Linked DNA regions of Homo sapiens: all the other regions are linked to region 1. Evidence: fine-mapped expression QTL. A gene starts in region 1. Each other region holds a variant in brackets. All regions are shown on one strand. Distances are from middle to middle. Region 1 holds the start of AAR2 (AAR2 splicing factor). Region 2 overlaps EPB41L1 (erythrocyte membrane protein band 4.1 like 1). Region 3 overlaps EPB41L1 (erythrocyte membrane protein band 4.1 like 1).

The links. PIP is the estimated chance that this variant, and not a neighbour inherited with it, causes the effect. A credible set is the group of variants that fine-mapping cannot tell apart.
Region 2: its variant is the best candidate, but not a certain one, in a credible set for the expression of AAR2 in whole blood (INTERVAL, PIP 0.60).
Region 3: its variant is the best candidate, but not a certain one, in a credible set for the expression of AAR2 in whole blood (INTERVAL, PIP 0.77).

The regions. Positions count from the first base shown.
Region 1 is chr20:36,234,962-36,237,711 of GRCh38, reverse strand. AAR2 (AAR2 splicing factor) reads right to left here and starts at 1,234. Exons shown (of 4, transcript NM_001271874.2): 1 at 1,209-1,234. It overlaps LOC105372602 (a long non-coding RNA gene), which reads left to right and starts at 1,246. Exons shown (of 3, transcript XR_936695.2): 1 at 1,246-1,354.
Region 2 is chr20:36,175,043-36,177,799 of GRCh38, reverse strand. EPB41L1 (erythrocyte membrane protein band 4.1 like 1) reads right to left here. Exons shown (of 22, transcript NM_012156.2): 3 at 2,085-2,249. LOC124904892 (a long non-coding RNA gene) reads left to right here. Exons shown (of 3, transcript XR_007067571.1): 3 at 2,631-2,757. Among named protein-coding and RNA genes, the nearest start is that of EPB41L1-AS1, 21 kb to the right of the region's middle. The variant C/T (reference allele first, on the strand shown) is at 1,601.
Region 3 is chr20:36,189,828-36,192,584 of GRCh38, reverse strand. It overlaps EPB41L1 (erythrocyte membrane protein band 4.1 like 1), which reads right to left. Exons shown (of 22, transcript NM_012156.2): 10 at 2,211-2,308; 11 at 1,788-1,963. The region is part of intron 1 of LOC124904892 (a long non-coding RNA gene); the gene reads left to right. Among named protein-coding and RNA genes, the nearest start is that of EPB41L1-AS1, 35 kb to the right of the region's middle. The variant AG/G (reference allele first, on the strand shown) is at 1,627.

The DNA.
Region 1 (2,750 bases):
ATTTAATATTTGCTGAATGAACAGATATTCCATTTACAATAACAGCTCATCAATTAGCCATTTTCCCTTGTGACATCTGTGTGCTCCTCCTTGATAATGACGTTTCTTTCATGCTAATTCCACCAGTCTGTAATTCTATTCACTATATCTCCAGCAGCTGGCACAGGGCCTAGCACAGAGGAGATGCTAGGAAAACGTTTATTAAATATGCATAGAACTCTGCAGTCTACCAGCCCCTGTCACTGACAGCTCTGTGAGTTCCTCACAGTCCTGGAACACCTAAAGTCACATCCATCCACTTCTCTCCACCACCTCCCTAATCCAAGCTACCATCGTCCCTCACTCAGAGTGCTTGCTCCTCAACCCATTCTCCATTCAACAGCAGTAACCTTTTCAAAATGCCAATCTAATCACAACACCACCCATGTCAGCTTCTGAGTGGTTTCCCATATGGTTCTTGAAAAACCAGAATTCTTCCTATTACCTACAAAGCCTGCACGGTCTGACTCCTGGCAACCCCTTTAGCTTGTGTCACACAATGGTCCCCCACAAGCTCTCTGTTCCAGCCACAACGGCCTCTTTCAGAACCTGAAATTGGAGGCTGTCTCCATATAGAAAACTCTTCCCTCCCCACTTTGTCAAATCCTTTTTTCTGATCTCAGCTCAATATTCACCTCCTCAGTAAAGGTTCCTTGCCCTGGGGCTAGGTCAGGTCTCCTGTGATATAATCTGGGGTGCCTTGTACCTTTCCGTCTCAATGATCACAACTGCAGTTTTGGATGTTTGATTGAAGGCTGTCATCGCCACGAGACTTGAGTCCTGCTGTATCCCTAGCACAGATTCAACGCTTAGTAAACATTTATTTAATACAAGTATGATATCCATTTTGTAAACGAGAAACAAAGCCTCAGTTCGGGGAAAGACCTTACTGGAAGTCACGCAGAGAGTAGGGCAGAGCCAGGTCGAGTGCAATCAGGGTCTCCGGCCCCCAGGCTCTAAAGTTAAGAAAACCGCGACGTAACTCTGGCGACGGCTTCTCAGGAAGGGCCTCCAGAGACACCAGCGTCCCACAAACAGAGAACCAGCCGCCCCGGCGAGGTGGGCCTAGTTCAAGGCACTCCGTGACTCTGAGCCGAGAAGAGGGGCGGCCCAGCCACACATACACAAGGAATCAGGAAAGGAAAAAGAGGCCAGGAGGCCACACTCACCGCCTCGCCCCACGTTCCGGTACAGCGGAAACGCACCGGAAGTTCTCCAGCTTTGGCGTCTGACTGGAGCGACGGGGGAAGCGGTCCGGCAGAGCCCTGGGTCGCGGGAAGAATGGCCCGTGCCTGCAGGTTCCGCCGGATGCAAGGTTGCCTTTTGTTATTCTTAGTTTCTCGTTTTAGCTTCTGAATTGTGAACAACTTTCATTAACCTATGCATTTTATATCCCCGTCCAGAAACACAGCCACCAGCCATCTTACTTTGGGCTCAAGCAGTCATGGTCACTAAAGCACAGCCAAGGCTTGTACCAGTGGCTACTATTCAGAAGTAGCCAGTCAGGCGCTCGGTCACTGTCTTTGTCAGCCAGTCTCTATCCCGGTCACAGTGTCTCAGCTTCCAGTCACACTCAGCCCTCGGGGAGAGCCTCAGAAACCCAGCCACCAGCCCAGAGAGAACCAGCGTCAGCCTCCGCTGCTGCAGCAGCAGCGGTCGCCACCTCAGTCCCTCTGGCCATTATCACCCCGTGTCCTTCCTGCAGGCCAAGTCCTAACATCTCAGTCAGGCTATCAACGCACTAGGGAAGGAATCTGCCTGTCTTGTTCCTCACTGTTTCCCTGGAACCGAGCACAAAGCCAGGCACAAAAGCTCAGCTGAGTACATATATTATGCATTTAATTAATAATGATGATAATTTGGTATTAATAAATAACTATTTGTGGGTCTAACCCTGCACTATTAATCAGGGTTCCACCAAAGATACAGAGCCAGTAGGAGATCTATATTAAGTGATTTATTGCCAAGAATTGGCTTATGTGATTTTAGGGCAGGCCACTTGGGTATTTCTTTTTTTGAGACGCAATCTCACTCTGTCACCCAGGCTGGAGTGCAATGGCGCTATCTCGGCTCACTGCAACCTCCACCTCCTGGGTTCAAGCCATTCTCCTGCCTCAGCCTCCCAAGTAGCTGGGATTACAGGCGCCCACCACCGTGCCTGGCTAATTTTTGTATTTTTAGTAGAGACGGGGTTTCATCTTGTTGGCCAGGCTGGTTTCGAACTCCTGACCTCAGGTGATCTGCCCACCTTGGCCTCTCAAAGTGCTGGGATTACAGGCATGAGCCACCGTGCCCGGCCCACTTGGGTATTTATAATCCTTGCACTAACCCTTGTAAGGTATGTGTATTCCCAATTTGCAGAAGAGAAAACTGAGGTTCAAAGAGATGTTACACAGCCAGAGAATGGCAGAGCTAGAATGCAAACCAAGGGCTGTCTGTTCTTATCTCTTGTGCTGCTGCTCCTTAGCTTGTCTGTCACATTTCCTCAGTGACAGCTGGACACGCCAATCTGTCTCGGTCAAAATTTATCTCTTAGTGGGTTGCAGACTAGACCGGGCCCTGCAGTCATGGTTAATCACAATGAGCTGCTGCAGGATTAACCAGAGACAGCCTCCATCAGTCACAGTCATGCTTACCAATCTCAGCCTGTCCTGTCAAGTTTCATCTCCTGCATGAAGAAGCTCAGCTCCCTCTCCACCCCTCCCCACTCC
Region 2 (2,757 bases), 60 kb after region 1:
CCCTCTGAGTCCTAAGGGATCCTGGGGGTGACAACAATGGCCAGCTCCTTGATGGCCTTCTTCCAAGTTCTGGTGGTGGTTTCTGGACTTTGAGCTTGCTTGGGGAGAAGCTGAAGTGGAAGGCATAGGAAGTGACGGCTTTCTCCTTCCTTTTTAGTGATTAGGAGAAGGAGGCTAACTTAGACCGAAGGGGCAGAAAAGCAAGTCCTAAGCTTTGGGTGTGAGAGGAAGAGAAGCCGCCCCTGGAATATGACAGAAGCGGGCAGGGGGAGAAGGGGAGGGCTTGGGGCTCAGGGTCACAGTGTGACCCTCCCTTCCCTGAGTGAAATCCAGGGCAGCCCAGGCTAGCCCACCACTCCCTTCCCCACAGCCAGTGAGGTTTCACAGAGGCTCATGGGGCCTCCATCAGCTTCTGCTGGAAGTACCATTGTTAGGGCCAGGTAGGTTCCTCCCACTCCTGTAGAGCTAGGCTTGGGCCTCTCTGAACCACCATTCAGAATGACGAAGCCGAGAACCCGACTGGGCACTCCAAACCCACAGGGGTAAAGATGAGCACCAATAAGGGGATCACATGGCAGGGGAACAGGAGGCAGTCACCACCCAAAGAGGCAGGGACTCTAGAGAGGGAGTGAGACCCCTGTAAGGTCTGGCTGGGCCCTCGGGACCAAGCCTGACAAGGAATTCCTGAACCTGGAGATCATCAGAGAGAGAGGACCTAGCCTCAGTCAAATGCTTTGTGCACTTCTAGGACAGGCAGAAATGGCATCTTGGGGCCCATCAAGGTAGGAGAGAGGACATAGAAGACAGCCCTTTCCTTTGTCCCAGGAGCAGGGAAGGTGAAATCTTTCTATAGACAAAATACATACACAGTCGGGTGCAGTGGCTCATGCCTGTAATCCCAGCACTTTGGGAGGCCAAGGCAGGCAGATCACTTGAGGCCAGGAGTTTGAGACCAGCCTGGGCAACATGGTGAAACCCTGTCTCTACTAAAAATACAAAAATTAGCCGGGTGTGGTGGCGGGCACCTGTAATCCCAGCTATTCAGGAGGCTGAAGCAGGAGAACTGCTTGAACCTGGGAGATTGAGGTTGCAGGGAGCTGAGATCGCACCACTGCACACCAGCCTGGGCAACAGAGCAAGACTCTGTCTCAACAAAAAAAAAAAAAAAAGAAAAAAAAGAAAAAATACATGTACATAAAAACAAAACAAATCAAAACCCTGTAGAGAAGAGGGACTCAGCCTCCCAGGGCTCAGGAGTAAGCCACATCCCTAAAATCAGTGCATGGGAGAGAAAAGGGGGCAGCTCCTATATATCTCAGTAGCAAGGACACCCTCTGAGCCCTTTCACACATGCGGAGAAGGGCCACGAATGCTGCCTCGGCAGGGATAGAACCTCTAAGGGCTCACAGAGGGGGCGAGCGAGAGCTCAGAATTAGGGCGGGAGTCAGAACCTATATAGGAAAAGGAGACCTAAATGTGAGGCCAGGAGGGCCAAACCCAGAAGGAGGCATCTGCTGTGTCACCACCATGGGGCAGGGCCATACCACAGGGTTTCTACATGGCCTGGGTGACATCTTCCCAATGGGCCGCCTCCCTGTGA[C/T]GTGGTGATGGGCTTGCCATAGAACCCTCAGGTGACTAGTTTGTCCTGGAGACTTGAGATGGTGCCCTGGACAGGGACATTCACTAGGAAGGGAGGAGCCCTCTCTCCACCCAGTATATAAAAATGATTCTAATTTAAATGTCAGTCTCTCCTGGGTGAATAGGGGAGCCCAGTTCCCAGGTCTACTGTTTGTAGATCAGCCCTTACATGGTGGCATCCTTGCCAAGGTATAGTCACCCTGCAAAATCTTCCCCTGGTGCCAGCCCTGTACCTCGTCTAATTCTATTTGCAATCATAACCACTCTCTCCAGGCTTTGGTGCCACCATCTGTACAAAGGAGCTCCGAGCCAGGTCATCTCTCTGGACACTGTGACTGGTCCAGGACTCCTCTGGTTTGGCCCAAGCTGGGTACACACAGGAGCCTGCCCTGGACCTGAGGCTGGCTGACCGGGGACGGGACATATGGCACTCAGTGCTCCCCTACCTCCACCTCACACTCATACTCCGAGGCATCAAGCAGAGTGACCCGGCAGATGGCACTCTTGTATTTCTTGGCAATCTTCTGGGGCGATTTCTGGGCCTTGCTGGGCGTGGTCCTCTCCGAAAGGCCATCGGCCTCACTGTAGTCCTTCTCCTCCATGTCTAGGCTCTGCAGGACCAAGCAAGGGAATAGTTTGCTCAGTGAGTTTTAAGCCATGGCCTTTCATATAAGTAAGAAGCAATATAGAGGCATCTGGGGCCAAGACAGACCCCAGAATGAAAGTCGCTACCGTCTGAGACCCACAGGGCAACTAGGGTCCATGGCTGGTGTGTACAGGAGGAGAGCCAGGGCTTCCATGCATAATGGGTGGCCTTGTGTGAGGGGTCCCCATCTTCCCTGCAGGCTACTGCTGCCATAGGCATCCTCTGAGGCAGGAGCATCCCATGAAACCAAAGCCAGTGGCCAGAGCTGCCCTGTCTCCCCAGAGCAGCACATGACTCATCACAGCATCCATCTGGTCTCCTTCTTTTTGTCTGTCACTGGATCTAGCAGGAGTCTGGGAGCTGTGGACTGAGTTAAAGGAGAGGAGAAAGGCCAGAGACCTGCCCCACCGCCGCCCGCCCCGGGTCCTAACTCCACTGCTGATGCCCTCAGTGATCTTGGCCAAGTCCCTGCC
Region 3 (2,757 bases), 45 kb after region 1:
GTTTCCCTACCCAAGTCCCCACTTTCCACCTTTTTTTTTTTTTTTTTTTTTTTGAGACGGAGTCTTGCTCTGTCACCAGGCTAGAGTACAGTGGCGGTGCAATCTTGGCTCACTGCAACCTTCATCTCCCGGGTTCAAGTGATTCTCCTGCCTGAGCTCCCGAGTAGCTGGGACTACAGGCGCCTGCCACCATGCCTGGCTAATCTTTGTATTTTTAGTAGAGACGAGGTTTCACCATGTTGGCCAGGATGGTCTTGATCTCTGGACCTCGTGATCCACCTGCCTTGGCTTCCCGAAGTGTTGGGATTATAGGTGTGAGCCACTGTGCCTGGCCTTTTTATTTTTTATTTTTTTTATTTTTTTTGAGATGGAGTCTCGCTTTGTTGCCCAGGCTGGAATGCAATGGTGTGAGCTCACTGCAACCTCTGCCTCCCAGGTCCAAGCAATTCTCCTGTTTCAGCCTCCCGAGTAGCTGAGATTACAGGTGCATGCCACCACGCCCGGCTAATTTTTGTATTTTTAGTAGAGATGGGGTTTCATCATATTGGTCAGGCTGGTCTCGAACTCCTGACCTCAGGTGATCTGCCCGCCTTGGCCTCCCAAAGTGCTGGGATTACAGGCATGAGTCACCATGCCCAGCCCCCACTTCCCACCTTTAAGCCACTCTCTACAAACCTAAAAACAATAATGATGGGTACAATTTCTTAAGGTGCTACTATGTGCCACAGAATATTTTCTAGGCATGATCTCATTTAGTTTTCCCTAGAACACAGCAAAGTAGGTACTATGTATTTTGTAGAAGAGGAAATAGGCTCAGGGAGTTAAATAAGTTGCTTAAGGTCACCCATCCATTCATTCAGATATTTATGAACCACTTCCAGTGTCCAGAGAACAGCCCACGGTGACTGTCAAGCCGAGATTTGAACTCAGATCTGCATAATTCTGAATCTCCCCAGTGACCCATGTGACTTCCGAACATCACCTACAAACTCTAGTGTGTACATCCTGGGGAGAGACTTGGGCCCTGAAGGGTGCTGATTTAGTAGGTCTGGGGCAAAACCTGGGAATTTTCGTGCTTGCTTAACAATCTCACAGGCGACTCTGATGAAACGTGGTTTGTGCACCACATTTTAAGCCCTATCTGCTTGCTACAGGACTATATAGGGCCAGTTTTCATTGATGTTAAGGGCACCCATCAATCCAATAGAAATGGGGACAGTGGAGAGTGCCATGTGGTTAGATTGTCAATCAGCCCAGAACCTAGTAGAACCAAAAGAATGACCAAGAACGATGCCCTGGCCTCCCAGCAGATAAGGCATCATCAGCTCCACACTGCAGTCATAAGACACTATTCTCCTAGTATGATGATGACCAGTGTAAGGGACACCAGCCTGCAGCAGAGGGATGCAGGGGAGGAGGGTGAATCAGACCTGCACTGCCAGGCCCAAGGTTAGACCACAGGTTAGACTGGTGGATTGCTAAGCTTCTTGGGTAGGTGGCCCAAACCATATGGCTAAACCTGGGACCCCAAAAGACCACGACTCAGGGAAGTTGTGGGGAATCCAGAGAGTGGTAGTATCACATCTCAAGTGGGAGTGAGCTCTAGGTTGGGACTAAGCCACCAAG[AG/G]CTGCCCAGGGACAGCACTGGTCTTGAGGGGCCAGCCTGGTGCAGATGAACTTGGGATGCATCTACCATTTTCCTGCTCATTCTGCAGAACCCAGCATGCCCACTCCCCCAGTTCCCTCTGAAGACCATTCCCCGCCCAGCCCTCCAATTTGGGCCATACCTCCATCAAGGCTGCGGGACATGGTGTACCGTTTGCTGGAAGAACGCTCAAAGAAGGGTGCAGGCCGGTCAATGAGGGCGCTGGCCTGGCGAGTCTGTGCCTGGGTCCTCCCACTGTACCGGAACTTGGAGCCCATCACCAGGAAGCCCTTGGGTGGGGGCTCAGGGGACACCAGCCTGCAGCAGAGGGATGCAGGGGAGGAGGAGGAATCAGACCTGCACTGCCAGGCCCAAGGTTAGACCACAGCTGGCCTTTCATCCCACTACTCCACCAACTACAACAATTCAAAGTGGTCCAGGAAGGGAGGGACTTGGGGAAAGGGTGGAGGACTTTCCTAGAGTTCTCACTAACTCCTCCCCCTGCTCCCCTCCATACACATGGCCTCTGCCCCATCCCCATTACCCCATCCAAGGTCAGGCTCACCGGAAGAATGTATGATGCTCGATGCAGACCTTCCACAGTCTCTTGGCTGACCGGTGGTTTGGGAGCTTAAAGCCAATTGTGCTCTCAAATTGCTCATACTGGAAAACCAAAAGGGCAGGTTAGAGGCAGGGCCTGAGCTCACTCTCGCCACTAGCCCATTCTTTGTGTTTTTTATTTTATTTGTTTAATGTTTTTTTGAGACACAGGGTCTCGATCATTTGCCCAGGGTGGAGTACAGTGGCGCAATCATAGCTCACTGTAACCTTGAATTCCTGGGCTCAAGAGATCCTCCTGCCTCAGCCTCCCAAGTAGCCAGGACTACAGTCAGACGACACCACACCAGCTAATTTTTTGTAGAGAATGAGTCTCACTATGTTGCCTAGGCTGGTCTCCAACTCCTGGGCTCAAGCAGTCCTCCCACCTCAGCCTCCCAAAATGCTGGGATTACAGACGTGAGTCATTCTTTCTGAACTCTTCTCAGGCATCTGCGACTTTGGCCTGTTCATTCACTGAATCAATAAGGGTGATTGAGCCCTTACTCTGTGAC